Homo sapiens: one gene and its partners. The protein of the gene in region 4 purifies or fractionates together with the protein of the main gene of each other region. This does not show direct contact. Each region holds a gene or a part of one and is shown on either strand. Other genes may lie near its edges. The genes, in order: RPF2, BMS1, SPTY2D1, PDCD11, NOC3L, ISG20L2 and CEBPZ.

The links.
Region 1: the proteins of PDCD11 (region 4) and RPF2 purify together in Homo sapiens (affinity purification with mass spectrometry; one large-scale study listed by BioGRID and IntAct). This does not show direct contact.
Region 2: the proteins of PDCD11 (region 4) and BMS1 purify together in Homo sapiens (affinity purification with mass spectrometry; one large-scale study listed by BioGRID and IntAct). This does not show direct contact.
Region 3: the proteins of PDCD11 (region 4) and SPTY2D1 purify together in Homo sapiens (affinity purification with mass spectrometry; one large-scale study listed by BioGRID and IntAct). This does not show direct contact.
Region 5: the proteins of PDCD11 (region 4) and NOC3L purify together in Homo sapiens (affinity purification with mass spectrometry; one large-scale study listed by BioGRID and IntAct). This does not show direct contact.
Region 6: the proteins of PDCD11 (region 4) and ISG20L2 purify together in Homo sapiens (affinity purification with mass spectrometry; one large-scale study listed by BioGRID and IntAct). This does not show direct contact.
Region 7: the proteins of PDCD11 (region 4) and CEBPZ purify together in Homo sapiens (affinity purification with mass spectrometry; one large-scale study listed by BioGRID and IntAct). This does not show direct contact.

The regions. Positions count from the first base shown.
Region 1 is NC_000006.12:111,005,501-111,010,317, forward strand, and holds part of RPF2 (ribosome production factor 2 homolog), read left to right. Parts: intron 1-2,537; coding exon 2,538-2,637; intron 2,638-4,720; exon of another isoform or gene 4,721-4,763; intron 4,764-4,817. UniProt on the Homo sapiens protein: Involved in ribosomal large subunit assembly. May regulate the localization of the 5S RNP/5S ribonucleoprotein particle to the nucleolus.
Region 2 is NC_000010.11:42,792,097-42,796,913, forward strand, and holds part of BMS1 (ribosome biogenesis protein BMS1 homolog), read left to right. Parts: intron 1-396; coding exon 397-518; intron 519-860; coding exon 861-1,048; intron 1,049-1,755; coding exon 1,756-1,895; intron 1,896-4,377; coding exon 4,378-4,817. UniProt on the Homo sapiens protein: GTPase required for the synthesis of 40S ribosomal subunits and for processing of pre-ribosomal RNA (pre-rRNA) at sites A0, A1, and A2.
Region 3 is NC_000011.10:18,607,281-18,610,817, reverse strand, and holds part of SPTY2D1 (protein SPT2 homolog), read left to right. Parts: intron 1-863; coding exon 864-957; 3' UTR 958-3,537. UniProt on the Homo sapiens protein: Histone chaperone that stabilizes pre-existing histone tetramers and regulates replication-independent histone exchange on chromatin.
Region 4 is NC_000010.11:103,419,911-103,424,727, forward strand, and holds part of PDCD11 (protein RRP5 homolog), read left to right. Parts: intron 1-1,437; coding exon 1,438-1,657; intron 1,658-3,077; coding exon 3,078-3,227; intron 3,228-3,632; coding exon 3,633-3,748; intron 3,749-4,817. UniProt on the Homo sapiens protein: Essential for the generation of mature 18S rRNA, specifically necessary for cleavages at sites A0, 1 and 2 of the 47S precursor. Directly interacts with U3 snoRNA. Involved in the biogenesis of rRNA.
Region 5 is NC_000010.11:94,352,426-94,357,242, reverse strand, and holds part of NOC3L (nucleolar complex protein 3 homolog), read left to right. Parts: coding exon 1-69; intron 70-651; coding exon 652-708; intron 709-2,149; coding exon 2,150-2,280; intron 2,281-4,185; coding exon 4,186-4,347; intron 4,348-4,817. UniProt on the Homo sapiens protein: May be required for adipogenesis.
Region 6 is NC_000001.11:156,723,581-156,725,766, reverse strand, and holds part of ISG20L2 (interferon-stimulated 20 kDa exonuclease-like 2), read left to right. Parts: exon of another isoform or gene 1-1,202; coding exon of another isoform or gene 1,203-1,304; intron 1,305-1,418; coding exon 1,419-1,619; intron 1,620-2,186. UniProt on the Homo sapiens protein: 3'-> 5'-exoribonuclease involved in ribosome biogenesis in the processing of the 12S pre-rRNA. Displays a strong specificity for a 3'-end containing a free hydroxyl group.
Region 7 is NC_000002.12:37,206,872-37,211,688, reverse strand, and holds part of CEBPZ (CCAAT/enhancer-binding protein zeta), read left to right. Parts: intron 1-514; exon of another isoform or gene 515-606; coding exon 607-690; exon of another isoform or gene 691-4,817. UniProt on the Homo sapiens protein: Stimulates transcription from the HSP70 promoter.

The DNA of each region.
Region 1 (4,817 bases), on a different chromosome or scaffold from region 4:
AAAATACTTTTTATAGTAAGAGTTTCAACATTGCTGATGAGAATTGGTCTATACTTTCTATAGCTTATGTAAAATTATATTACTTCTCATGTGAATGTCCAGCTGGTAGTTTAATTTAGCCTTCATTTTATTTTTATTTATTTATTGTTTTGAGGGTCTTACTCTGTATCCCAGGCTGGAGTGTAGTGGCAAGAGCACGGCTCATGGCAGCCTGGACTTCCCTGGGCTCAAGTGATCCTTCCACCCCAGCCTCCCAAGTAGCTGGGACCATAGATGTGCACCACCACACCTGGCTAATTGTTTTGTATTTGGTTTGTTTGTTATTGTTTTCTTGAGACGGAGTCTCTGTCGCCCAGGCTGGAGTGCTGTGGCGCTATCTCAGCTCACTGCAACCTCCACCTCCTGGGTTCAAGCAATTTTCCTGTCTCAGCCCCGACTAGCTGGGACTACAGGCACACTGCACCTGGCTAATTTTTGTGTTTTTTAGTAGAGACAGGGTTTTACCATGTTGTCCAGGCTGGTCTCAAACTCCTGACCTCAAGTGATGCGCCTGCCTCAGCCTCCGAAAGTGCTGGGATTATAAGGGTGAGTCACCGTGCCCAGCCTGTTTTGTATTTTTTTGTAGAGACCGTGTCTCCCAGGCTGGTCTCAAACTCCTGGGCTCAAGCGATCTGCCCTTCTTGGCCTCCTAAAGTGCTGGGATTACAAGTGTAAGCCACCACACCTAGCCTATAGCCTTCATTTTTTTTTTATTGAGATGGCATCTCGCTCTCACCCAAGCTAGAGTGCAGTGGTGCAATCTCGGCTCACTACAACCTCTGTCTCTTGGGTTCAAACGATTATCCTACCTTAGCCTCTGGAGTAGCTGGGACTACAGGCGTGTACCACCACGCCCAGCTAATTTTTTCTATTTTTAGTAGAAACAGGGTTTCACCATGTTGGCCAGGCTGGTCTTGAACTCCTGACCTCAAGTGATCAGCCCCGTCTCTGCCTCTGAAAGTGGTGGGATTATAGGCGTGAACCACTGTGCCCAGCCCATAGCCTTCATTTTAAAATACTTTTTATAGGGTATAGTGGGAAAGGCACAGTGGTACAAATAAATTATAATTAAACTTATTTATTCATGAGACAAGGTCTTACTCTGTCACCCAGGCTGGAGTACAGTGGCACGATCATGGCTCACTGCAGCCTCCACCTTCTAGGCTCAAGCGATCCTCCTACCTCACGTTCCGAGTGGCTGGGACCATAGGCACTCACCAGCATGCCCAGCTAATTTTTAAAAGTTTTTTTTGGCCAGTTGCAGTGGCTCATGCCTGTAATCCCACCACTTTGGGAGGCCAAGGCGGGCAGATCACCTGAGGTCGGGAGTTCGAGACCGGCCTGACCAACATGGAGAAACCCCATCTCTACTAAAAATACAAAATTAGCCAGGCGTGGTGGCACATGCCTGTAGTCCCAGCTACTTGAGAGGTGGAGGTTGCGGTGAGCCGAGATAGCGCCATTGCACTCCAGCCTGGGCAGCAAGAGTGAAAGTCCGTCTCAAAAAAAAAAGGTTTTTTGTAGAGATGAGGTCTCACTGTGTTGCCCAGGCTGGTCTTGAACTCACTCCTGGCCTCAAGCTGTCTTCCTGCTTTGGCCTCCCAAAGTGCTGGGATTATAGGCATGAGCCGTCACACCTGGCCTTAAATTTATTTTGATTCAGGGTTGCTGGCCATCAGAAGTCTATTTTGGTTGCTTGGTTGGTTGTGTTGTGTTATGTTTTGTTTTGTTTTGTTTTCCTTTTGCAAGAGTAACTTTTAATTTTATTCTTTGCGTAGACTAATGTTAAAAAAGCCCTTTACATCATTCTTTTGCCATCTTTTATTTGGTAATGTAAATGAATGGAACAAATAATTTTTTTTTTAGTATAGAAGTCTAGAAGCTTAAAAATGTCATCTTAGCCAGGCCTGCACCTGTAGTCCCAGCTACTTGCAGGATGCCTTGAGCCCAAGAGTTTGAGTCCAGCCTAGGCAACACAGCGAGACCCTGTCTCTTTAAAAAGAAAAAAAAACCCACCTCTGTTTTTGCCTCTAATATCAGTATTCACAGACATCATTTTGGAACAGTTAATAAAATGTGAAAATAAATTAGTGTAAAGTATTGACTACTTTAAAATCAGTATAGGCCAGGCACAGTGGCTCTCACCTGTAATCCCAGCACTTTGGGAGGCTGAGGCAGGCGGATCATTTGAGGTCAGGAGTTTGAGACCAGCCTAACCAGCATGATGAAACCCAGTCTGTAAGAAAAATACAAAAAAACTAGCCAGGCATGGTGGTGTGCACCTGTAGTCCCAGCTACTTAGGAGGTTGAGGCAGGAGAATTGCTTGAACCCGGGAGGTGGAGGTTGCAGTGAGCTGAGATTGTGCCACTGCACTCCAGCCTGGATGACAGAGTGAGACTCCATCTCAAAAAAAATAAATAAAAATAAAAAACAAAATCAATATATAAACAGTTTAGACTTTGGTAATTATATAATTGCTTTTTTTTTTTTTTTTTAGAACAGTAAATGTCCTGAGGGAACAAAACCCATGCTGATATTTGCTGGCGATGATTTCGATGTAACAGAAGATTATAGAAGACTAAAAAGTCTTCTTATTGGTAAGTATTTTAGTATTTATTATCTTCAGGGTAGCTCAGGAAGACAGTCTCAGACTCTCACTGGTGGCACTTTGCTACTTTAGGTTTGTAACTTCTTTTTTCTCTTATTTTAAAAATAATATTTATATACTTAAAATAATGGAGTGCTTCACAAATTTGCATGCCATCCTTGCGCAGGGACCATGCTAATCTTCTCTGTATGGTTCCAGTTTTAGTATATGCGCTGCCGAAGCGAGCACAACTTCTTTTTCCTCCTTTTTTTGGACCTTTCTCTTTTTTTTTTCCCTTACCAGCAGCAGGAAAGCACCTAAGTATCTCGGGAGAGTTAAAGCAGCTGTTGTACTGTGTAGATGATTATTTCTGGATGTGTTAGTAACTTAGGTATTACTTGTATAGTGTTTTATAAAATTCCTGCACCCATCTCCTGTCATTCCTAGCATCATTTAAAATTAAATTTAGAAAGTTGAGGGATTAAAATTTCAAGATTGTTTGTATCACCGACTTCCAACTCAAAAACCTTAATTAGTTTTTCTGAGTTGAATATACAAGGCCTTTCACAATATATAACCAATGTAGCTTGGCCTTCTTGATCTCCTATTGCCTTCTTTTTTTCCATTAGAAAGGGTTTATTGCCAATATATTATTCACATTTCTATTGTGTATTCTGATATTGCTCTTATTTATCCAGTTTCTACTATTCATTTAAGTGTCAGATCATCAAGTTTCTTTTCCGGGAAGCCCTCAGTGACCTTCCTGGCTCCTTTTTTTTTTTTTTTTTTAAAGATAGAGTCTTGCTCTGTTGCCCAGGCTGGAGCACAATGGTGTGATCTCGGCCCACTGCAACCTCCACCTCCCGGGTTCAAGCGATTCTCCTGCCTAAGCCTCCCGAGTAGCTGGGATTACAGGTGCCCGTCACCATGCTGACTAATTTCTTTTGAGACGGAGTCTCGCTCTGTCGCCCAAGCTAGAGTGCAGTGGCGCGATCTCGGCTCACTGCAAGCTCCACCTCCCGGGTTCACACCGTTCTCCTTCCTCAGCCTCCCGAGTAGCTGGGACTACAGGCACCTGCCACCATGCCCAGCTTATTTTTGTATTTTTAGTAGAGATGGAGTTTCACTGTGTTAGCCAGGATGGTCTCAATCTCCTGACCTCGTGATCCACCCGCCTCGCCCTCCCAAAGTGCTGGGATTGCAGGTGTGAGCCACTGCGCCAGGCCTAATTTTTTTTTTATTTTTAGTAGAGACAGGGTTTTGCTATGTTGGCCAGGCTGGTCTTGAACTCCTGACTTCAGGCGATCCACCCTCCTTGGCCTCCCAAAATGCTGGGATTACAGGCATGAGCCACTGCGACAGGCCCTGGCTCATTTTTACTTTATTACCATCATCATCCTAAGTGCCAGGCATATAGTAGGCACTTCATATACACTGCTTCATTCTAACAAGAACCTTGTGAGGTTGTTCTACAGATAACCCACACCTAGCAAACTATGCTAGTTCTAAATGATTTGTGTAATGAATATAAGGACTACATCCTTTTCTATTTTTTTCTCCTTTATGAGGCAAGTCGTGTTCTGATGCCCAGGCTGGAGTGCAGTAGCTCAATCATGGCTCATTGCAGCCTCAACCTCCCAGGCTCAAGTGATCCTCCCACCTCAGCCTCCTAAGTAGCTGGGACCATAGGCACATGCCACTATGCCTGGCTAATTTTTAAAATTTTTTGTAAGATGGGGTCTCACTGTGTTGCCCAGGCTGGTCTTGAACTTCAGGGCTTAAGCAATCCTCCCACTTCAGCCCTCAGAGTGCTGGGATTACAGGTGTGAGCCCCCACACCCAGCCTCCATGATTTTTAAAAGGTTATTAGTACTTAGCATTCTGCAATTATATTTGCCAGCTCTTTTATAACTCTGGAAAGTAATTTAATTTTCCAAGAGATTGGTACTAATTTAAAGGGTCTTGGGTCTGTCTCTCTGTCCCTCAATTTTTTTTTTTTTCTTTTTTTTTTTTCTTTTTAGACAGCATCTTGCTCTGTCACCCAGGCTGGAGTGTACTGGTGTGATCACGTCTTACTGCAGCCTTGACCTCTTGGGCTCAAGCAGTCCTCTACCTCCTGAGCAGCTGGGACTACAGGTTCACACCACCATGCCCAGCTAATTTTTATTTTAATTTTTTGTAGAGATATGG
Region 2 (4,817 bases), about 61 Mb from region 4:
TCCTTTGTGCTCTTCCTCGTGTGGTTTTCTCAGCCTGGAATTCCCTTTTTCCACCTGCCAGAATCCAAGCCACAGTAAAAATCCCAGAGCACAGGCTCGCCCTCTTCCAGAAAGGGATTTTCTGAATATGTTCTTCACTCTTCCCCGACCCCAGGTGGACGTCATCTCCCTGTCTGGTGTCTTATGGAATGAATATCACTTTCAGCCTAGAGACACAGTTGTGTGTCTGCCCCTTTTCCTCTGGTGGATGGTGAATGGTGCCTCCTTATTTCTGCATTTTCTAGTTTTCTAAATGACGTGCTTAATGGACAAGAGTGTGATGAATCATTGACACATGAAAGGAGGTATAGGAACTTTTGGCATTCATTTCTGCTGTGATTGAATTTATTTTTCTAGGATGGAAGATTTGACAAACCCAGAGGATATCCGAACAAACATCAAATGTGACCGGAAGGTGTCACTTTATGGTTATTTAAGAGGAGCACACTTGAAAAATAAAAGCCAAATTCACATGCCAGGTATTCTCTTGTTGTAGAACATACTAGAATTACACATAGGATTCTTGGGATGGCTTCATTTCTCAGGAAAACTGAAAAATGACCAAACAAGGGAAGATGGCCTTGCTGGAGGTTTTAAAAGTAAGCCACCTATGTGTAGGCCTGCAAAGGTGTTACTGAATCCCCTCTTCTCTGACCTCTTGTCTTGTAGCTAGGGGGCCACTGTTCCAGTGTGGCACAATGCCCTTCTTTAGTGTTATGGGTTAAGCCCTTGGACTGTGGATCATATTTAACCCCCTAGTCAATGGTAGATGCTTCTGACTTCTTGTCAGCTGAAGCTGGCTTTTGGGTTCTGTCTTCCAGGGGTAGGAGATTTTGCCGTGAGTGACATCAGTTTCCTCCCAGACCCTTGCGCTCTTCCTGAACAACAAAAGAAGCGCTGTTTAAATGAGAAGGAGAAGCTGGTTTATGCGCCTCTTTCTGGAGTTGGGGGTGTGCTGTATGACAAAGACGCTGTCTATGTTGACCTTGGTGGCAGCCACGTTTTTCAGGTATCGGTGAGACGGGAGTCATTTCTCTGAACTTTCAGTATTCTTTCTGAATCTATTTTTTAATCACAAAAAGTAATGTACTCAGCTTTTATTTATTGAAGATTTTTCTCTTGTACTTATAATAAAGGCCCAAATGCATATTGTAAATATATAGGATAAAAATAATACTTTTTTTTTCATTGTACCAAGCAGAAGAGTCCTCTCCTTCATTCCTCCTTGATCCATGGCCCCAGCACAGGCATTGCTGCTGTGTGGCGCCTGCACGGCCCATCCCCGTTTCTACAAAATCAGTGTGCTTTCCAGCTTTCATTGGTCTTTTTCTCATTCACAATGGTCTCCTCATGCTGTATTTTAAAGTGGATTTCAAATATTTATTTCTTTGTTCTGAAGTGGAATTTTATTGGGTTAAAATCGGCTTATTTTAAAATATTAGAAAAGCTAGCATTGTTGTAGCTTTGGAGCTGAGGTTTTTCTAGCTAGGTTGTTTAGGTTATCAGGTTATATACTCCCTGAACTTTGGAAAAGTTTAATGGAGATGGGGATCCATTTCAAGCTTTGTTGTAAGGATTTTCTTCTCTGCTTTTTGAGGCATTAAGAAAGGTTCTTAGGAAATGTGTCTAAGATAATTTTGAGAAACTGAGTGAAGCTCGTGTCTCTCCAGGATCTTTGTGCTTTCCTCACGTGCCCTTTCTTGGTGGTCTTGACAGGATGAAGTGGGGCCCACCCATGAGCTGGTCCAGAGTCTCATCTCTACCCACTCCACCATTGATGCCAAGATGGCTTCAAGTCGAGTGACGCTGTTTTCTGATTCCAAGCCACTTGGGTCAGAGGATATAGATAATCAAGGGTAAGTCTGCTTTTTTTCTATTTTTAATAAAAAGATGTATTACAAAAGATCATATCACCCATAATTCAGCCATCATAACACATTTCGGTGGGATTCATTCTATGTTGTTTTGTTTTTCTTTGTGTGTGCATGTGTCTCTGAGGGCTCTTCACTTACCTGACATTACAAGGGAGTCTTTTCTTGAAATAAATTGCAGGATGCATTTTTCAACAGACCCCAAATATTCCTCAAATACCATGCCATCTTCCATAGGTTGCCTTTTGTTTTTTAAGAGACCTGAAGCCACTTGGCTTTCTTTTGGTGGCCAAAACACTAGAGCAAAGTCAGGGAGTTTGTGGCTGTCCAGAAGCCACATGCCTTGTCTCTGAAAGTTTTATTTAGATTGTGTTGTATTATCTCCTCTGGGTAGGTTTCCGTGGATGTATGGCTCATGTGAATTATTTTCCAGTCTGGGTTGGGGATTTGTATACCTTTATATGCAGTGGATGTTTGCAAAACATTGGTTTTGTTGTATTGATTTATGACTCCCAGTAAAATTTATCTGAAAATTTTGAGATTATCTAGTATGTAATTTGGTACAATGTGCATAAACTACCTAGCAGAATGCCTGACAGGTACGAAGTGTTCGCCGAAAGATCACTCCTTTATAATGGGATTACTAGCTATTTTCACTTTTGCATATCCTTCTAGTCATCTTTGTCTACAAGAATACTCTCCTCTAATATAGTTACAGTTAAAATACATAATTTTATTTCTATATTATCATTTCCTTCTTTTTTTTTTTATTATACTTTAAGTTTTAGGGTACATGTGCACAATGTGCAGGTTAGTTACATATGTATACATGTGCCATGCTGGTGCGCTGCACCCACTAACTTGTCATCTAGCATTAGGTATATCTCCCAATGCTATCCCTCCCCGCTCTGCCCACCCCACAACAGTCCCCAGAGTGTGATGTTCCCCTTCCTGTGTCCATGTGTTCTCATTGTTCAATTCCCACCTATGAGTGAGAATATGCGGTGTTTGGTTTTTTGTTCTTGTGATAGTTTACTGAGAATGATGATTTCCAATTTCATCCATGTCCCTACAAAGGACATGAACTCATCCTTTTTTATGGCTGCATAGTATTCCATGGTGTATATGTGCCACATTTTCTTAATCCAGTCTATCATTGTTGGACATTTGGGTTGGTTCCAAGTCTTTGCTATTGTGAATAGTGCGGCAATAAACATACGTTTGCATGTGTCTTTATAGCAGCATGATTTATAGTCCTTTGTCATTTCCTTCTTCTATACAGTCTTTATGTAGTCATCATTTTGTTATTATTGGTGTATTCTTTTTTTTTTGTGACAAGATCTTGCTTTGTCTCCCAGGCTGGAGTGCAGTGGTATGATCTTGGCTCACTTCAGCCTTGAACTCCCAGGCTCAAGTGGTCCTCCTGCTTCAGCCCCCCAAGTAGCTGGGACTACAGGAGTGCGCCACCACTCCTAGCTAATTTTTTTTTTTTTTTCTAGAGATTAGGTCTCACCATGTTGCCCAGGCTGGTCTCAAACTCCTGGGCTCAAGCAATCCTCCTGCCTTGGCCTCCCAAAGTTCTGGGATTACAGATGTGAGCCACTACCCCTGGCCTATTATTGCTGTATTCTAACTTACCCGTCTCTTATGGTATGATTTTCAGTTTTTTCAAATTTATGTTTTCTTAATTTTATATATCTTGCTACATTAAATAGCTTCATACAGTTTTCTTTTATCCTGTGATTTTAGCTTCCTGATGATTCTTCTGTATCAGTTATAGCACTGGTGACTTAAAATGGATGTTCTTCCTCTGTCATTCCTCCTACGTTTGTTAGCTGGCATTTTTAACAAAGAGCTTTCTCTTCTCCCCTTTATTTCGGTATCACTGCTGACTAATGCACTTGTGTTTTGTTCCATGGGTTATTTTCCATCACTATCATTATTCTTCCTGATGCCTATGCTGGCCCAGATTTGGCTGCAGGAGCCTTCAGCCTGTCTCCTGTGTCCTTTCAACTGTCTCTGTTAGTCTTTGAGCATTTCTCACTTTCTGACAGAACAAGAGGATCCAGGCTCATTTTGCCTTCTTTCTGCTTTGGGCCTGGACTTACCCATTTCTCTTAAGGATCATGTGTTTTTAGCTTAGAAATTAATCAGCTTTCCAAAAGATCTACAAAACAGTAACTTCTCTTTTGAGCAATTTTTTTCTAAAATTAGATTTTTGTTTTTTAAGGGTTATTCCTTTATTCTCTCTATAAGTTCTTTTGAAGTGTGGTGTTAGGGAACCATGCCCGAGTTTGCTTCTTAACTCTTCCAATGTTTATCAAATCATATTTTCCCTATGCTATGTCATCTTAAACAATTCCTTGACATTTTCTATTTCTTTGTATTTTCATTGACTATATTGCCATTTCTAGATTAGCTGATTAATGTACAAATTGAATTATTTTGTATTTCCTTGGTAATACAGGCTAATGATGCCAAAGGAGGAAAAACAAATGGACTTGAACACTGGTCGAATGCGTCGGAAAGCCATTTTCGGAGATGAAGATGAATCTGGAGATAGTGATGATGAAGAAGATGATGAAATGTCTGAAGATGACGGGTTGGAAAACGGCTCTAGTGATGAGGAAGCAGAAGAGGAGGAAAATGCTGAGATGACTGATCAGTATATGGCTGTTAAGGGCATCAAACGACGGAAACTTGAGTTGGAAGAAGACAGTGAAATGGATTTGCCAGCATTTGCTGACAGTGACGATGACCTTGAGAGGAGCTCAGCGGAAGAAGGGGAAGCGGAGGAAGCTGATGAAAGCAGTGAAGAAGAGGACTGCACTGCAGGAGAGAAGGGCATTTCAGGATCAAAGGCTGCTGGAGAAGGTAGTAAAGCAGGGCTGTCACCAGCTAATTGCC
Region 3 (3,537 bases), on a different chromosome or scaffold from region 4:
TAACATTGCTGGCCTCAGGGATGTAGGTATATTACATTTCCTCTGATTTCTGTTTGGCTATCTGATAGTAAGCTAATGATACTTTCTCTATTGGGGTAAAAAGTAATTACTTTGTTTATAGTATTGTTGTTTTTTTTTTTTTTTTTTTTTAAGAGACAGGGTCTTGCTCTGTCGCCAAGGCTGGAGTGCGGTGGCATGGTCACGGCTCACTGCAACCCCCACCTCCCCGGGTTCAAGCGATTCTTCTGCCTCAGCTTCCCAAGTAGCTGGGACTACAGGTGTGCGCTACCACGCCCAGCTAATTTTTGTAATTTTTAGTAGAGATGGGGTTTCACCATATGTTGGCCAGGCTGGTCTCAAACTCCTGACCTCAGGTGATCCGCCTGGCTCGGCTTCCTAAAGTGCTGGGATTACAGGTGTGAGCCACTGTGCCCGGCCATAATGTTATTATAGGTAAATAATTCACTTCAGTCTCAAGCCAGAATACTATATCTTTTTCTCCCTCTTGCCCATAAAATTTCAAACTAAAGTGTTGGAAGAGAACAAGAATAGAATGTTAGTTAATGAATAAATGCTTCTTGCTGTTTATTTTTAAAAGCTATTGAGATAAACCTATATTTTATTATTTTAATGGAAATAGTAAGGTTTTTGTGGTGTGTGAGTTCTTTTTCCCACGACAATTTGAGTCTGTGGCCCCTGGTAAAAAAATATCCCTGCTAGTTTGTTTTCAGTGGTAAAGCCTTGAGGCATTTTGAGAGCATCAGCACAATCCATGTGAGCTCCCAGTTGGAATTTTCATTCTTTTTAAGGAAAGTGGTCATCTCATGTATATTGACAAATACCCTTTAAAAATTCTTTGGCAGCTTAAGACTGGGTATGCAAGAGGACTTAGAGGAAATGAGACGTGAAGAAGAAGAAATGCAACGTCGAAGGGCCAAGAAGCTGAAGAGGCGTTAGCTGCTGCTTTTATTTTTGTGAAATTCTAGAGCTGCTCTGCTGCAAGGATTTCCTGCCTTCAGACTGAAGAAGCCCCCTTATCATTTTAGATTTATACTTGGGTACTCAAGGAGAAGGAATGCATACTGTCATTTGCAGGCTGTCATTTGAGCATAAAATATTTTCAGATATTTTCCAGGGTGAAATCTGTAATGCAGATGATATAATGCCCACTTGTGCTCTTATGAAGTTAACTGTTCACAGATGCCAGCCTTGATCCTGATGAGCTATGCACTCTAATGTGGGGCCACTCACCAGTCAGCCAATCTTTTATTGTTCCTTTGCTACTTTGAAAGGAAAAAAAAGGTTGTCTCTTGATTTCTGTAATTCTTCTGCTGATCTGTGAGTAGGGCACTGCCCTGCTCCCAATCAAACTTAGTCTTTTTATGAGAAACCTGGACCTTCCATGAATGTTGCCAGCAATAAAGTGACTTGTCCTAATCTATGGATTGAGAACTTGAAAATGTAGAGTAGAATTTATAACTATCATATGGATGTCATCCTGTGACTTTGAAGTACAAAGTAGAATAAATTCTGTATTCATGGATTGGATGCTGAGCATTCTTACTCATTAATTTAGGTGGCTAGGAATTAATGAAAAAATTTTCAAGTTAAAATACAGGTTATAACAGTATAATATTCTTTTCTAAGTTTTCCTTTCAGATTTACTGTTATGTTGGCTTTAGTGTAAGACAAGGTCACTGTGCTGATTGATTTTTATCTAAAAAAATTCATTTTTATATCGAAGAAAAAATATTTTATTCAAACATTAGATTTGAAAGAGTAATAGTTTATAAAATAAGGAAGTAACATGTGAGGCTCTCCCCTCCTCCCCTCCCCCATCATAAAGATATTTTGAAATCCCAAGGTGCCCTCATACCTCTTGACATTAATGACTTCATTTTTTAGCTTGAATTTGTTAGCAAATATTAATGGCAGAAAACCAAAAACTAAATTTATGGTATCGAGAGCACCACCTTCTCTTTTTGCCCATATTGCACTTTGATTTCAAACTATGCACTGTGAAGAGATTTTTTTCCCCAGGTAGGAAGGGATGTTCCCTGTTATCGTTATTTTACTGAGCTGTGGAAACTCATTTTTACCCTTTTTAAAGTCATAAATATGGACTTAATAGCCCTTAACCTTCAAGTCCAAGCAGTTCCAATCAGGCTGACTTAGGATCATGCTGGAAGGAAGCCAAGTCTCAAGAACTGTCAGCAACAGAAAATGAGATATGATGCTAGAGAGCATTTGTCCTTGACTGTAAGTACAGAGGCTTAGGGGAAGTGAGACATAAGCTTGTAGGAATAATAAACGTTCTACAATAAACGTTTTGGCTATCTTAAGCCATTGTATGGGGGGGATTAGGAAGTAGGAGGGATTGTCCTACAACAGGCCCTTATACTTCAACAGCCCAAATATTTTGGTTTATTCCTTTTTATCCATAAAGTCTTTATTCTTCAAGTTTGGGTATTATAGATTACCATTGTTAGCCTCCCTTAATGGGACCATATGAGCCAGGCTTTTAAGACGGACTCATTTTGAATTGAGTTTCAAACTTTGAAAGTGCAAGGATTTAATTTTTAAGTTGAATCCCATGAAAGGTGTCATCATCACTAGGAATAACACCCTTTGTAACTACATATAGAACTGTTACAATGGTAGCAGAAAATCCTATTGATTTCATCTCACCCATTTCAGATACCTTCAGTGAAATTAAGGGTAGTGTGATGTCCCATGTAATAAAACAGGCTTAGAACATCAATTCCTCTGCTGCCATTTATGTGCTTTTATTCCCCCTTCAAAAATTTTTTATTGGATATATATATTTTTCAGTATTCAGACTCTGAAATCTGTCATTACAATCAAGTGCTTGTCACAGCTGAAAGATTTCTGGTGGCTTAAAGTTTACTAGCAGTAAATTTATGATATGGTACAGTTCTTTGTACAGAAAGGCACCATTATGTTAGAATAAATTTCCAGAACTTAGTGGGAAGAATCAGGTTTTAACCTTGTGTGTCTGTTACTTCTGAGTGCATTTCTATAATATAAATGTTGATTTGCGTCAACATTATAAAAGAGCACTTCTGTGGCTCATTTAAAAGAAAAAAAAGGTTAAGTCTTTTAAATTTTGGCCTTGTTTCCAAATCCTGTCTTCCATGTTGTTTTTCTGCACTTCCTGACCACTCTTATAAAAAGCTCACAAACCTTTGAAGAAACTGGAGTAGGCTGTTATTTCATTAAGGTTTACAAATTAAATGCTTGATTTTTAATGTATTCTCTACTGTTTTGATTTTTGGATTTTCTTAATTCAACATTTGAAGATGTGCCTTTTGGGTAATGTTAATCACGAATGTAGTAATATTTCATGATTGTAATAATGTTACATGATCATGGGTGTGGCATTCTCTAACAAATGATGTGAAAGGAAAGTAGTTTTCATAAAACTCATGGCTCTGATTGCACAGTCCCACTTGCTTTTGATATTGCTATGTCAAAGCAAAGGGCACTTCTTTTAAGGCTACTTTCAGAACTTTGTAT
Region 4 (4,817 bases):
TTCCAAGTAGCTGGGATTACAGGTGCCCACCAACATGCCAGGCTTTTTTTTTTTTTTTTTTTTGAGTAGTAGAGACAGAGTTTTACCATGTTGGCCAGGCTGGTCTTGAACTCCTGACCTTAAGTGATCCACCTGCCTCGGCCTCCCAAAGTGCTGCGATTACAGGTGTGAGCCACCGCACCTGGCCAAGGATACTTTACTCTTTTGAAAGATTTTCAGGGGTACCTCTTAAGGTGTGTGTGACATAAAGGCACCTGGGAGGGGTGAGTGCAGCTGAGCTTTTGGCCCATGTTCCTCTCGCCCAGCTGTGTGACCATCTGGAGGAAGGGACACCTTTCCCACTCCACACTACACATTGAAGGCCTTAGTCTCCAGTGTGAAGATGACTGCACTTGTTTTTATTCTCTCAGCACACTTAGACAGGGAAATTGATCATCCTGAGCTACTGAGTACAGGTTTTGCAGACTTCTGAGGTTTTTGAGGTGTTAAGGGACCAGAATGTCTTTGAAATTATTACCTCCCCCACCCCCATGTCATTGAGTCCTGCACTTTCAGATGGGAACAATCCCAGCAGTCCCCTAGCAGAGCCTCCTGGTGTGCCTGGCACGTCAGCCGAGGCCTATTGAGGGGATGGGACTCACCAAAGTCATGGAAGACAGCGAGCAAATGGCGTGCAGCTGATTGCTGCTGCAGATCATTCATCAGTATTTCTTCCCCTCTGTAGGCCTGTCTCCCTGGTGTTTTGCCTGGGAAAATCTCATTTGCATCCCCTGCCAGAAACATTTTAAAAATGGGAGCAGAGGGGAGGGCCCCAGAAACAAGCCCAGTGAGGGGCAGAGGGTTCCCGTGGGTTGTTAGGGGTGAGGACAGCCCTGGTGTCTGCCTGGCTTGCTGTGAATGTGCCTTCTTGACTGGGTGCCCTCTCCTGGAGGCTCTGTTTTTTTTGTTGTTGTTGTTTGTTTTTGTTTTTGTTTTTTTTTTTTGAGATGGAGTCTCACTCTGTCGCCCAGGCTGGAGTGCAGTGGCGCAATCTCGGCTTACAGCAACCTCTGCCTCCCGGATTCAAGTGATTCTCCTGCCCCAGCCTCCCGAGTAGCTGGAATTGCAGGTGCATGCCACCACTCCTGGCTAATTTTTGTATTTTTAGTAGAGTCAGGGTTTCACCATGTTGGTCAGGCTGGTCTGGAACTCCTGACCCCATGATCTGCCCGCCTCGGCCTCCCGAAGTGCTGGGATTACAGGCGTGAGCCACTGCTCCCAGCCAATCCGGAGGCTCTGTTTTTATGGAAGGGAAGTAGAGCTGTGTTCAGAGAGGGCTTGGGGGAGCTTCCTAGGCCCCATTTCCCCCTACTCACGTACCCCTTTCCAGGAACATCAAGTGGGTTGTCTTAATGAAGACCTTTCCTCTTCTCATCTCCTGCCTGTTCTTCTGTTCAGATCATGAGTGACAAATTTGTGACCTCCACAAGTGACCACTTTGTTGAGGGCCAGACAGTAGCGGCAAAGGTGACCAATGTGGATGAGGAGAAGCAGCGGATGCTGCTGTCACTGCGGCTGTCGGACTGTGGTCTGGGGGACTTGGCTATCACCAGCCTCCTCCTCCTGAATCAGTGCCTGGAGGAGCTGCAGGGCGTGCGCAGCCTTATGAGCAACCGAGGTGGGGCACCTGTGGGGCAGGGGAGGTGGGCCAGGGGTGGGAGTATGTGTTGTAAATTACACCTGTTGTTAGGTGAGTTGTTGGGCTTCCCAGAACATAAGAAAAAAAAATTTGGGGCCGGGCGCGGTGGCTCACGCCTGTAATCCCAGCACTTTGGGAGGCCGAGGCGGGTGGATCATGAGGTCAGGAGATCGAGACCATCCTGGCTAACAAGGTGAAACCCCGTCTCTACTAAAAATACAAAAAAAAATTAGCCGGGCGCGGTGGCGGGCGCCTGTAGTCCCAGCTACTCGGGAGGCTGAGGCAGGAGAATGGCGTGAACCCGGGAAGCGGAGCTTGCAGTGAGCCGAGATTGCGTCACTGCAGCCCGCAGTCCGGCCTGGGTGACAGAGTGAGACTCCGTCTCAAAAAAAAAAAAAAAAAAAGAAAAAAAAAATTGGGTTAACTTTTTTTTTAATGGAAGTATGACCTGCATAAAGTGCACAATTTTATTATTATTATTATTATTATTATTATTATTATTATTATTATTGAGACCAAGTTGCACTCTGTCGCCTGGGATGGAGTGTGGTGGTGCGATCTTGGCCACTGCAACTTCCACCCCCCAGGTTCAAGCGATTCTCCTTCCTCAGCCTCCGGAGTAGCTAGGATTACAGGCATCTGCCACCATGTCTGGCTAATTTTTGTATTTTTAGAGAAGACAGGGTTTCGCCATGTTGGCCAGGCTGGTCTCGAACTCCTGACCTCAAGTGATCCACCCGCCCTGGCCTCCCAAAGTGCTGGGATTACAGGCGTGAGCCACTGCGCCCGGCCAAAGTGCACAGTTATTATGTGTGCAGCTCAATAAATGTTTATATTACACCCCTTTAAGATAAAGGTCATTACGAGCATCCTAGATGTCCTCTTCTCCCCACTGCCAGTCCAGAGTCAAAATTTCCCTTAGTTCTGTGGCTTTATATTTGCATTTGCTGTGAATTCACTCGCCTTTTCACCTTTCATTCCTTTATTCAGCAGATGAAATGGAACTGGGACCTGCCAGGCTTTGTGAGGGGTTATTATTCTGACCCTCTTAGACTTTGAACCATTGTGTGGGGTTGTTGTAACTTTAATGGAATTTCATAGCAGGAGGCTTGAGAGGGGACAGTGAAAATTCAGAAACCAAAGGAAAGCCTGTCTTCCTGGTATTTGTTGGCTACTCCCATGAATTATGGTCAGGTAGGATTATTAGCAAGGGGCTTAGGTCTGTCTGCTTGTGACAAGAGTTTTCATGGATACTGAACATTTTTGCAAAAAGTGATTTTACCTTGTCAGTGGTTCCAGTGCTCCACTGTCCTCCGTGGTGATAGCACACTGCCAGAGGAAAAGAACAGTGAGAGTTCTTTCATGGTACTAATCCGTGTTTCCTTTGGATCTCTGGCAGACTCTGTGTTGATCCAGACGCTGGCCGAGATGACCCCAGGAATGTTCCTTGACCTAGTGGTGCAGGAGGTGTTGGAAGATGGCTCTGTGGTATTCAGTGGGGGTCCAGTGCCCGACCTGGTCCTGAAAGCCAGCAGATACCATCGCGCAGGTGAGTGCTTCTGTCTTACCCATTGTGGTTGGTGGGAGGACCCTTTGTCCATTGCTCCCTCTCCTGGATATAGAATTTCTAAATACTTACGGTAGGTGAGTTGATTCGGTAGAGATTTTTGGCATGCCTATCTTGTGTGAATGCAAAGGCTTAGGTATGAATCCTTTAATTGTTACAATTGGGTAAATCTAGATTTTTATATATTAGGTTACATAAATTAAGGCCTACCTGAACTTGAACTATGGGAGGTAGACCCTTGATTTCCCTAATTATGGCCCGTATGGACCCAGGACATGTGTCCTCTTTGCTTTTTTGGATCTAAGGGGTAGCAGCTACATGTGAGAGGTGCTGCTCTCCCTTCACTCTGTTCCAGAAGGATAATCACACTGTGGTTCTGCACTGCAGGGCAGGAGGTGGAATCTGGGCAGAAAAAGAAGGTTGTTATCTTAAATGTTGATCTTTTGAAGTTGGAAGTGCACGTTTCCCTTCACCAGGACTTGGTGAATAGAAAAGCTAGAAAGGTAAGCTTGCTCCTGACTTCCATTTCCATGGTTTCACATGATGTACCCTTCAACCCCACTCCAGTTCAGGGATTCCAACTCAGATGCCTGTAGCAAGGGTAGCCCTATGTCTGGATGGATCCAGGACACCCCCGGTTTAGACCTCTTGTCCTGGTGTGGTTCATAGTGCTGACTTCTGTTCTGGTTCCGGTGATAAGTTACATGGGCACTCCATCTTTAGGGCCAGACAGATAAATAGTGTGCAGGAGTGGAGCTGGCTGTGTGGGTAGGGAGTGGCTGGCCTGGGACTCTGACGAGCTGGAGAGTGCATGCCCAGCCCCTGTGGGGCTGAGACTGTTCAGTCCCGCCCAATTGTTGCCGGGTGGGAATCTGGGGCTACTGCTGCTAAATCTTTGATTTTTAAGAGAAGGCAGAATTTGGATTTTTATTTGAAATAAAAGCTGAAAATGTTGGAAACTTATTTTTTTAAAAACATCCCATGAGCCAAACAGCATGTCTGTGGGCAGTTCAGACCTCCAAGCTGTGCGTCCACACCCTCGCCTGCCTTGTCTTCTGGACACTTTTGTGTGACATAAGAATGGGTTTGAGGGAAAAATTATTATTTTTCTCTGGGTGATGAATATATTTGGTTATTGTCTAAAGCACTTATTAGGCACCTAGTTGCACAGAGTATGGTGCAGTGTAGATATAATCCTTAATTTCCAGTTGCTTACAGTATTAAGAGTTTAGGACAGAGAGAGAATGGAAAGCAATACTAACCTCTCATTCAGTTTTCTAGCAGGACCCTGTACCATTTTATCACCTAAGGGAAGCTTGGGCATATAAGAGCATGAGCACAATTTGGATTTTGAGGAAAGAGAGGCTAGGTGCCTTGCACACAATAAGCTCTCAGTAATGACTCTATTCATTGCTTGGGTTGAAGAGTGATTAATTGGGGGTGGGGGAGCTGCAGGACAGATTCAGGAACCACAGTGTCTCTAAGCTGAGAGAGCTGTTAGAGGTTGCAAGGCTGTGCATCAGAATTATCTCAATAACTTGTAAAATTCAGATTTACTAGATCTAGGATAGG
Region 5 (4,817 bases), 9.1 Mb from region 4:
AGGAACTGATTCATTTACTTCCTATCAAAGATAAAAGTGGTATAATCCCACAGACTAGGGAGAAGCCAGGTGAGTCTAATAAACTGGTAATATTAGTTGAACTTTTACCCCCTTACTGATATCATGTTTTTTTTTCACTCAAAATTTAATTTTACTTTGATTTTACCCATATCTAGAAAATATTCAATTAGTCTTATAGCAAGCTTGATGATTTGGGCCAGAATTATAGATTATCTCAGGTACCAATTTGTACTGTGAGGACAACTGAAGCTACAAGGTTCAGGTGATTTTCTTTTCACTAAATTTTGTTGTTTCTAAAATTAGAGCATATTAACTGTTCTTGATTAGCTTTCTTTTTTAATGTATCTTCTTTTGTATGTGAAATAAAACAGAAAAGTTCAGATATCAAAGATGTGAAGTTACATGGTTTATAACAAAGCGCATACCTATAAAACTACTATTCAGACAAGGAAAAAAAACTACTGCTAGCTTCCAGAATCCTCCCTTGTGCTCACCTCAATCACTAATTGTGCTCTTCCCATAAAAGTAACTGCTATCCTGAGTTTTATCGTAATCACCTCCTAGCATTTCTTTACAGTTTTTACCACTTAAGTATATATCACAGTTTTAATACATATGTTTTCCATATAGTTACTGATAGTAACAAAGATGAAGAGGATCAAGAAGAAGAGAGGGAACTTGAGGAAGGTAATATGTCTTTACAGTTACTAAATTGTTAATTGAGAATTTTTTTGCATAATAGTAAATGTGAGTTAATTTTAGATGAAATCTGGAAGGTACATTTTGGAGTACTGCTCATTTCAAGGTCACTTTGAACATTTTTCCACATTTGAAAGCTTCATCTTGTGGAATTATTAATAGATTCTTTATTTTTTTGATTATGGAAAAATTTACACAATCATATTTGTAATATCTAGGCATACAAGAAGTGTGTCTTGTTAATTATTACTGTTCTGAATTCCTTTTAATTGTAAGAGAAAGACTACTTACAAATAACTGTTAACTTTTTAGCTTTAAATTACAAAAGCGATTCTGTAGTATGAAGTCATTTTGGTTTGTTTCTAGCACAATTATACTTGCATATGTTTCATATAATTGAATGTCAGTTTCTATTACCTAGGACCATTTAATCAAAGTTGAACTGAAATAATGCATTTTATTGTTTGAAATTATATTAGTTTGGAATTTGTGACAGAACAATCTAGTTAAATTTTACTTTCGCTTAGCAGACCTCATTAATAGCAAAAATGAATTACAGGTCAACTGTTTAACTGTTTTCAGTCACCCATCATAAAACCATTACAGATTATGCTAGTGTTGATTAAATCTAGTTCCCTATGAATTTCCTAAGGTGGACATGTTTTTCTGTAGCCCAAAACTATGAAGTATTAGTTTGTATAAAGTAATATATAGTGTTAAAAACAAAGGAGAATATTCTGTACTTAAAAAAAAACTAAATAGGATTATCCTATTTGTTAATTAATATGAATTATTTTGGGCTTATTATCATAGAAGCTAAGAATATGAGCTCTAGGCTGGTTGCACTGGCTCATGCCTGTAATCCCAGCACTTTGGGATGCTGAGGTGGGAGGATCACTTGAGCCCAGGAGTTTGAGACCAGTCTGGGCCACATGGTGAAACCCCGTCTCTACAAAAAACACAAAAATTAGCTGGGTATTGTGGCTCACCTATGGTCTCAGCTACTGGGGAGGCTGAGGTGGGAGGATCAATTGAACCTGGGAGGTGGAGGCTGTAGTAAGCTGTGATAGTGCCACTGTACTCCAGCCTAGGTGACCAAGTGAGACCCTGTCTCAAAAAAAAAAAAAAAAAGTTCTAGAATCAGACTGCCTGAGTTTGAATCCTATTTTCCTTTGGTTTATGAGCTTGAATCCTATTTTCCTTTGGTTTATGAGCTTAGCCAAGTTATTTTCTCTTCCTTTGCTTCAGTTTTCTTATCTATAAAATGGGTCCAATGATAGTACCTGTATTGTTGAGGAGATGATGTGTAGTAGTAAATACAAAATTCTTAGCTGTTGTCATTATTATTATTACTGTAAAAATATTTTATTAAGATTCTTGGATACTTGTAAGCAGAGGAATATGTAAGGGAACATCTAATCTGTTTTAGAGATCATTGAAGATCCTATTCAAGAGCTGACCATAGAAGAACATTTGATTGAGAGAAAGAAGAAATTACAGGAGAAGAAGATGCATATTGCAGCCTTGGCATCTGCCATATTATCAGATCCAGAAAATAATGTAGGTAGTATTAATTTCTTTAGGCTCTTTGTATTAGGTATGGTGTAAATGCCTAATTGTTAAGATTCCCTTGTTACCTATAAGCATACACTAAAAGGAAAAGCATTAACTAAACATAGTAGCTGGGTTAGAGTAAGAGAGTAGACAGAATCTTAGCTTAATGCTATGTCTGAACTTAATTTCTTTTGTAATCCTAGAAAAGTTACTTAAACTCTCTGAATCTTATTCTCCTCATCTTCATATATGAAAATACTGGACATCTTATAACTCTAAAAATGTTTAAATTTATAAAATTGTATTAGGGAGGAGGAACCTGTTTGCAAATTTGCTTGACATACCCGTGGAGTTTTTAAAAAGCGCGCTACAGGGGAAGTGTATGGAATTAGTTCAGGAATATTTGTAAGTTGAAAATATTTTAAGTGAACTAGAGCCAAAGTTAAAGTAAAGTGTTATTGTGCCATGTGTATAGTCGTTGAGTTAGTGATGGTTATAACACATGAACTAGAGAAATCTGAGGTTTAATCTTGGCCCTGATAAGTACTATCTGTGAGACTTTGGGTAAGTTATTTATCCAAGACTCTTTCATCTCTAAAAAAGGACAGTGTCTTTTTCAAAACTTTGTGGTGAGGATTATATGATGAAATATACGTGAAGTCATATAAAATGATACTATTATTATTGTTATGCTGGTGTCCCCAGCATACTATTATAACAAGTATTTGTTTATGAAATGATAGAATAGCTTATTTACATTTATAGAAGCAAATTTCATGTGGGAATGCTTTGGAGTAGTACTTGTCCTTTTCTAATGAAGTGAGGGGAAGATCTAGAGCAGAATTAGGGAAGAGAGATTTGGAATATTTCTTATGTGTATTCTCTCAATCATTACAAAACCATAGGCATAAGAGATTGATCTAATTTTACAGCTGGAAAATTGAGCCTTAAAAAACCCAAGTGATTTGTTCCAGATTTTAACAGCCACTGGATTGGAACCCAGATCTTCTACTCAGGAACCTGTGCTCACAGACAATAGTAGTTCATCAAAGCAGTCGAAACCATCATAGAAATTATCTTTGAAGCTCAAGTTAATGTGGCTATATTACATGTAATTCCTGATTAATTCATGTGTATGACTGATATATTTGGTTAATGTATATAACATTTTAGTATATTTTGAAAAGCGTTTTTAGAAGAATAGGACACACGTACTTTAGGAAAATCCAGCAAAAAAGAATTTCCCAAAATAGCTAAATAATAAATGTAAACTAATTTTTTAAGGTCTGTATGTTTCTAACTATATGACAAAAATATGATTACTGATATAGTTTGGAGGTGTGTCCCCTCCAAATCTTATGTTGAAATGTGACCTCTGATGTTGGAAGTGGGCCTGGTGGGAGGTGTTTAGATTATAGGGGTGGATCCCTCATGAATGGCTTGGTGCCATCCTTGTGGTAACAAGTGACTTCTCACTCTGGTAGTTCATGTGAGAGCTGGTTGTTTAAAAGAGCTTAGAACCTCCCCTATCTTTCCTGTGACACCCTGGCTCCCCCTTTGCCTTCTGCCTTGATCGTAAGTTTCCTGAGGCCTCACCAGGAGTAGACGCAGGCACCGAGCTTCCTCTACAGCCTGCAGAACTATAAGCCAAAATAAACCTCTTTTCTTTATAAATTATCCAGCCTCAGGCATTTCTTTCTAGCAATACAAGAACGGACTAATACAATTACTTTATGACTTTAGTGACTTATCTCTTGGTAAAGTGAGCAGGGTCTGGAGTTTGGTGTGGCATGACTAGACTTGGAGTCATTGTGTGAATTCCGCTTGTTTTGCCGGATGTGGGGCTGTTGTCTTTTGTTCATAATTGTTTCGTCATGATTTCTCCAGCTTTATAAGCTATTTCTTTAACAGATTAAAAAATTGAAAGAATTACGTTCTATGTTGATGGAACAAGATCCTGATGTGGCTGTTACTGTTCGAAAGCTGGTAATTGTTTCTCTGATGGAGTTATTTAAAGATATTACTCCTTCATATAAAATCCGGCCCCTCACAGAAGCAGAAAAATCTACTAAGGTAATGCTAGATTGCTAGATATAATTACTATCTAAAATAACTAAACATTTTGGAGAGATAGACTTTTTTTTTTTGAGGCAGAGTTTTACTCTGTCGCCCAGACTAGAGTGCAGTGGCGTGATCTTGGCTCACTGCAACCTCTGCCTTCCGGGTTCAAGTGATTCTCCTGCCTCAGCCCCCTCAGTAGCTGGGATCACAGGCATGCGCCACCAGGCCCAGCTAATTTTTGTGCTTTTAGTAGAGACGGGGTTTCCCCACGTTGGCCAGGCTGGTCTCAAACACCTGACCTCAGGTGATCTACCCGCCTCTGCCTCACAAAGTGCTGAGATTACAGGCATGAGCCACCACGCCTGGCCTAAACGACTGCCGCGTTTTTTGTTTTTTGTTTTTTTAAATAGTACTGGGTGTATACTAGACACACATATTTTATACTAATTTTGGGCTTTTAATGTTCTGATTTTAAAAAATGA
Region 6 (2,186 bases), on a different chromosome or scaffold from region 4:
GAAGATGGGACGGGTCTGAGACAGCAAATCTGCCCAGCTTTGATGAGGGCTATATGTCGAGGTTAATAAGAAGTGAAGGTGGTGGTGGACAGTAAGTAGGTGAAGTCAGGAGTAACGAAATATCTAGTTCACGGGACTACGTCTGGTTTTCATCATAAAGCACTTCCCCAGTGCCAAGCTGGGGTTATGAGACTAAGGTATGTCCAGATGAGCCTAGCCCCTTCAGAGGGGGTCCCTTTGGGAGGCTATGCAGGACTGTCACTTTTGTTGAAAACCTGTTTGGAACCTCATTTGGGAATGGCCTTCAGAGCCTGTGGTGTGTTCTTCGGTTGTCCTCATTGGTAGCATGTCCTCCTACTTCAAGAGCCTGAAATGGCTAGGTGTGGTGACATGTGTCTGTAATCCCAGCTACTCAGGAGTTTGAGGTGAGAGCATTGCTTGAGCCCAGGAGTTTGAGGCCAGCCAACCTGGGAAAAATAGCAAGACCTCATCTCTTTTAAAAAATAAGTTACCTGAAGGCCAGGTGTGGTGGCTCACACCTGTAATCCCAGCACTTTGGGAGCCTGAAGCGGGCAGATCACAAGATCAGGAGTTCAAGACCAGCCTGGCCCATATGGTGAAACTCCGTCTCTACTAAAAATACAAAACTTAGCCAGGCATGGTGGCAGGTGCCAGTAGTCCCAGCTACTTGGGAGGCTGAGGCAGGAGAAACGCTTGAACCCGGGAGGCGGAGGTTGTAGTGAGCCAAGATCGCGCCAGTACACTCCAGCCTGGGCAACAGAGCAAGACTCCATCTCAAAAAAAAAAAACAGTTTCCTGAAATATTGAGAAGTTATTTTTATTTTACTTGGTTCCAAAACTAGTGTGAATAAGGTTGCTTCTGCAACTTTAGTTTATATGTGATTCTTAATTTTTTACGGTTTGTAGACTCTGAGAATTTGATGAAAGCCACAGATTCTCTTCCTCTAGTACCCATACACATCTAATTGCATGTAATTTTGGGCTTTTGTTAGCCTCCCTGGAGCCCGGGTCCCAGCCATGTGTCTAAGGCCAACATAATGGTAATAGTTAAAGGACTTCATGTAGCAAGCCAGAACTGAACTAAATACATGGACATCTCAAACATGAGTGTCATTTAGGACTGAAGGCAAATTAATGTCATGGGGTGGAGATCAATAAGAAGGTAAGGAGCCACTGGCAGTATGAGTCCAAACAGGGTATACCATGGAAATCACCTGTGGAAGAGGAAGGTGGATTCCAGAAGAAAGAAAACTTGTGGGAGTGAGCATTTCAAGGATGGAGAGGTAGGCAGTTGGTGAAAGAATCCAGAAGGGATTGATGGTCATGTTGGGCTTTCAGAATGCAGGGGTTCCACTTCAGTCTTCCTTCTCACCACTCTCTTCCCACACTTCTTCCAGATCTTGAAGATACTCACAGGGAAGATAGTGGTGGGGCATGCCATCCACAACGACTTCAAAGCCCTTCAGTACTTTCACCCCAAGTCCCTCACCCGTGACACCTCCCATATCCCCCCCCTCAACCGGAAGGCTGACTGCCCGGAGAATGCCACCATGTCTCTGAAGCATCTCACCAAGAAGCTGCTAAACCGGGATATCCAGGTAGCATCTCCCCACATCCCCCGCCCCCATCTTGGACATGGCTCTCGTTGATGCCCCTAGCCAGACTCTGATCTCAGAAGTCCTGTGGTTGTAGAGATCCAGGTGGGCTGCTGTGATGGGAAGAGCTCCATCTGTACACAGGATAATAATTCCTGTTGTCTACCTCATAGAATGTTTCAAAGTGTGCTTTGGAAAAGGGAAAAAGTCCTAAGTAGATATAAAACCCTAACTAAGGAAGAAAGCAGGTAGCAGTGGTGGTCCAAGAGACCGTGTAGTGGATGCAAGGACCGCTCGTATTTTACACGCTATATTTCAGCAAAGGGTGGCCCATCTGGCAGGAAGATGGGGACATATGTCACATATAGAGCAGTTAAGGAACTAGGGAAAGTGGAAGACTCAGAAGACCTGTCTTTGACCTGGTATGTTCTATCTCTACAGAACCTAATATGGCTTATACATACTGCCACAGAAAGGACTGAGGTAGACAGTGGCAAAGACTTCCTAGGAGTTGAACCCCTGAAATTACATAAGGAGTAGGACCCCACCAGAATTCTGTCTTTGTAGGCT
Region 7 (4,817 bases), on a different chromosome or scaffold from region 4:
GAGCTGAAGGGTTTTTATTGTGTGTTATGTGTGTTTTCTTTTAAGCAGCTTTTTGAGCTTTGGACTTTTACTTTAACCAGCAGCTAGCTTCTCTGTACAATACATGTTGAGCTGAAATGCTGCCATTTTTTGATAGTAATTAGCAGTTTATAAAAGTTAATCAGTATTCATCATAGCCCAGCATAGATGAAGGTGAATATTTTATCTTGTAAATTAGCAAGGAACACCCAGAATTGTCTCTAGACTGTTGTCTGACCTTTCTGTCCTTTCACATACCTCCAGCATGCACATGCCTGCCCAACATTCTTCTTACTTATTCTGAACCACAGCAGAAGTTTCTTGTTTTAAGGGGTTTTATATTATTTGGTCTTATTAATGAAGCTATTTAGAAAATTTTGTACTTGCACAAAATATTAGAACTGTGCCAATTCTTAGAGTCTTTTTCTCAGTCTGTCCTCAAGCCTATGCTAGTGGAATTACAAAACCCACATGGAATAGCAGTATAGTGCCTTACCATCAGAATAAAGATTTTAGCATATCTTGGAGTAATATTTTCCAGTCTTATTGTTTTTAAATTGCTTATTAGCAAATTTTTTCGTGTAACAGAACTTGAAGTCCACTCCAAAGTCAGTACTAAGAAAAGCAAGAGAAAAGGTACAGATGATTTTGACTTTGCTGGCTCATTTCAAGGTAAGAAAATACATTTAATATCTTTTAAAAGCAGTGTCCATGTGAAAGGTGTCATTATCATTTTGGGAAATGAACTCTCCTAAATTTGATTAATAAAATTCAGGGGTGGGGGGGGTTCTTTTTAAGAAAGATGTTAAGTGGAAATTATTTTCCACATTTTGAATTGTTTCTCGCATTCAGATATCTCTGGATCATCTTTTCATTCACTTTTTAAAAATTTGTTATCATTATTTCAGTTGTTTTTGGGGAACAGGTAGGGTGTTTGGTTACATAGGTAAGTTCTTTAGTAGTGATTTCTGAGATTTTGGTGCACCCATCACTCAAGCAGTACACTGCACCCAATGTGTACTCTTATCCCCCACTGCCTCCCACTCTTCCCCCCAAGTCCCCAGAGTCCATTATATCATTCTTAAGCCTTTGCATCCTCATTGCTTAGCTCCCATTTATAACTGAGAACATAGAATGTTTGGTTTTCCATTCCTGAATTACTTCGCTTAGAATAATGGTCTCCAGCTGTATTCAGGTTGCTGCGAATGCCATTATTTCTCTCCTTTTTATGGATGAGTAGCATTCCATGGTATATGTATACCACATTTTCTTTATCCACTCATTAGTTGATGGGCATTTAGGTTGGTTCCATATTTTTGCAATTGCAGATTGTGCTACTATAAATCTGTGTGTTTGTCTTTTTTATATAATGACTTATTTTCCTCTGGGTAGTACCCAGTGGTGGGATTGCTAGATCAAATGATAGTTCTACTTTCAGTTCTTTAAGGACTCTCCATACTGTTTACCATAGTGGTTGTACTAGTTTACATTCCCACCAGCAATGTAGAAGTGTTCCCTTATTACCACATCCATGCCAACATCTGAAATTTTTTTTATTTTTAAATTACGGCCATTCTTGCAGGAGTAAGGTGGTATTGCACTGTGGCTTTGATTTGCATTTCCCTGATAATCAGGGATGTTGAGCATTTCTTCATATGTTTCTTGACCATTTGTATATCTTTTGAGAATTGTCTGTTCATATCCTTAACACACTTTTTGATGGGATTGTTTTTTTCTTGCTGACTTTTTTGAGTTCCTTATAGATTCTGGACATTAGTCCTTTCTCAGATGCATAGTTTACGAAGATTTTCTCCCACTCTATGGGTTGTCTATTTACTCTGCTGATTATTTATTTTGCTATGCAGACGCTTTTTAGCTTAATTAAGTCCCATCTATTTGTTTTTGTTGCATTTGCATTTAGGTTCTTGGTCATGAACTCTACTTAAGCCAATGTCTAGAAGAGTTTTTCCAATGTTATATTCTAGAATTTTTACAGTTTCAGGTCTTATCTTTAAGTCTTCGATCCATCTTGAGTTTTCTGCATAAGGTGAGAAATGAGGATCCAGTTTAATTCTCCTACATGTGGCTTGCCAGTTATCCCAGCACCAATGGTTCAATAGGGTGTCCTTTCCCCACTTTGTTTTTGTTTACTTTGTCAAAGATCAGATGGTTGTAAGTATTTGGCTTTATTTCTGGGTTCTCTATTCTGTTCCATTGGTCTACGTGCCTGTTTTTGTACAAGTACCATGCTATTTTGGTAACAATAGCCTAGTAGTATAGTTTGAAGTCAGGTAATGAGATGCCTCTAGATTTGTTCTTTTTGTTTAGTCTTGCTTGGCTATGCAGGCTCTTATTTTGTTCCATATGAATTTCAGGATTTTTTTTCCTAGTTCTGTGAAGAATGATGATGGCATTTTGATGGGAATTACATTAAATTTATAGATTGCTTTTGGCAGTATGGTCATTTTCACAATATCGATTCTACCCATCCATGAACATGGGATGCGTTTCCATTTGTGTGTGTCTGTGGTTTCTTTCAGCAGTGTTTTGTAGTTTTCCTTTTAGAGATCTTTCACCTCCTTGATTAGGTGTATTCCTAAGTATTATTATTTTTTTTTTTTTTGGCAGGTGTTGTAAGGGGGGTAGAGTAATTGATTTGATTCTCAGCTTGGTTGCTGTTGGTGTATAGCAATGCTACTGGTTTGCGCACATTGATTTTGTATCCTGAAACTTTGCTGGATTTATTTATCAGATCTAGGATCTTTTTGGATGAGTCTTTAGGGTTTTCTAGGTATGCTATCATATCATCGGTGAATAGTGACAGTTTGACTTCCTCTTTACTGATTTGAATGCCCTTTCTTTCTCTTGTCCAGTTGCACTGGCTAGGATTTCCAGTACTATGTTGAATAGAAGTGGTGAAAGTGGGCATCCTTGTCTTGTTCCAGTTCTCAGGGGGAATGCTTTCAACTTTTCCCTGTTCAGTATAATGTTGGCTATGGGTTTATCATAGATGGCTTTCATTACTTTTAAGGTACGTCCCTTGTATGCCAGTTTTGCTGAGGGTTTAAATCATAAAGGATGCTTGATTTTGTCAAATGCTTTTTCTGCGTCTATTGAGATGATCATATGATTTTTGTTTTTAATTGTTTATGTGGTATATCATATTTATTGACTTGCGTATGTTAAACCAGCCCTATATCCCTGGCAAGAAACCCACTTGATCATGGTGTATTATCTTTTTGATATGCTGTTGGAGTTGGTTAGCTAGTATTTTGTTGAGGGTTTTTGCATCTGTGTGCATGAGGAATATTGGTCTCTAGTTTTCTTTTGTTATGTCATTTCCTGATTTTGGAATTAGGGCGATATTGGCTTCATTGAATGATTTAGGGAGGATTCCCTCTTTCCCTATCTTTTGGAATAGTTTCAGTAGGATTGGTACCAGTTCTTTGAATGTCTGATAGAATTCAGCTGTGAATCCATCTGGTCCTGGACTTTGTTTTGTTGGCAGTTTTTTTATTACTGTTTCAGTCGTGCTACTTGTTATTGGTCTGTTCAGAGTTTCCATTTCTTTCTGGTTTAATCTAGAAGGGTTGTATATTTCCAGGAATTTATCCATTTTTCTCTAGGTTTTCTAGTTTTTGTGCATAAAGGTGTTCATAGTAGCCTTGAATGATCTTTTGTATTTCTGTGGTATCGGTTGTAGTATCTCCCATTTCGTCTCTAATTGAGCTTATTCAGATCTTCTCTCTTCTTTTTTTGGTTAATCTTGCTAATGGTCTACCGATTTTCTTTATTTTTCCACAGAACCAGCTTTTTGTTTCATTTATCTTTTGTAGTGTTTGCTTCAGTTTTATTTAGTTCTGCTCTGATATTTGTTATTTCTTTTCTTCTGCTGGGTTTGAGTTTGATTTGTTCTTGTTTCTCTAGTTCCTTGAGGTGTGAGCTTAGATTGTCTGTTTATGCTCTTTCAGACTTTTTGATGTAGACATTTAATGCTGTGAACTTACTAAATGTAGTGCCGCTTTTGCTGTATCCCAGAGGTTTTGATGGGTTGTGTCACTATTGTTCAGTTCAAAAAATTTTAATTTCCATCTTGATTTCATTGTTGACACAAAGATCATTCAAGAGCAGATTATTAAATTTCCATGTATTTGTATATAGTTTTGAGGGTTCCTTTTGGAGTTAATTTCCAATTGTATTCCACTGTGGTGTGAGAGGGTACTTGATACAATTTCAGTTTTCTTAAGTTTATTGAGACTTGTTTTGTGGCCTACCATATGGTCTATCCTTGAGAATGCTCCGTGTGCTGGTGAAAATAATGTATATTCTGCAGTTTTTGGGTAGAATGTTCCGTAGGTATCTGTTAAGTCCATTTGTTCTAAGGTATAGTTTAAGTCCATTGTTTCTTTGTTGACTTTCTGTCTTGATGACCCGTCTAGGGCTGTCAGTGGAGTATTGAAGTCACCCACTATTATTGTGTTGCCATCTGTCTAATTTCTTAGGTCTAGTAGTAATGGTTTTATAAATTTGGAAGCTCTGGTGGTAGGTGCATATATATTTTGGATTATGACATTTCTTGTTGGACTAATCATTTTACTAGTATGTAATGTCCCTCTTTGTCTTTTTTAACTGTTGTTGCTTTAAAGTCTGTTTTGTCTGATATAAGAATAGCTAGTCCTGCTTGCTTTTGGTTTCCATTTGCATGGAATATCTTTTCCCACCCCTTTACCTTAAGTTTATGTGAGTCCTTATGTGTTACGTGAGTCTCCTGAACACAGCAGATTCTTGGTTGGTGGTCC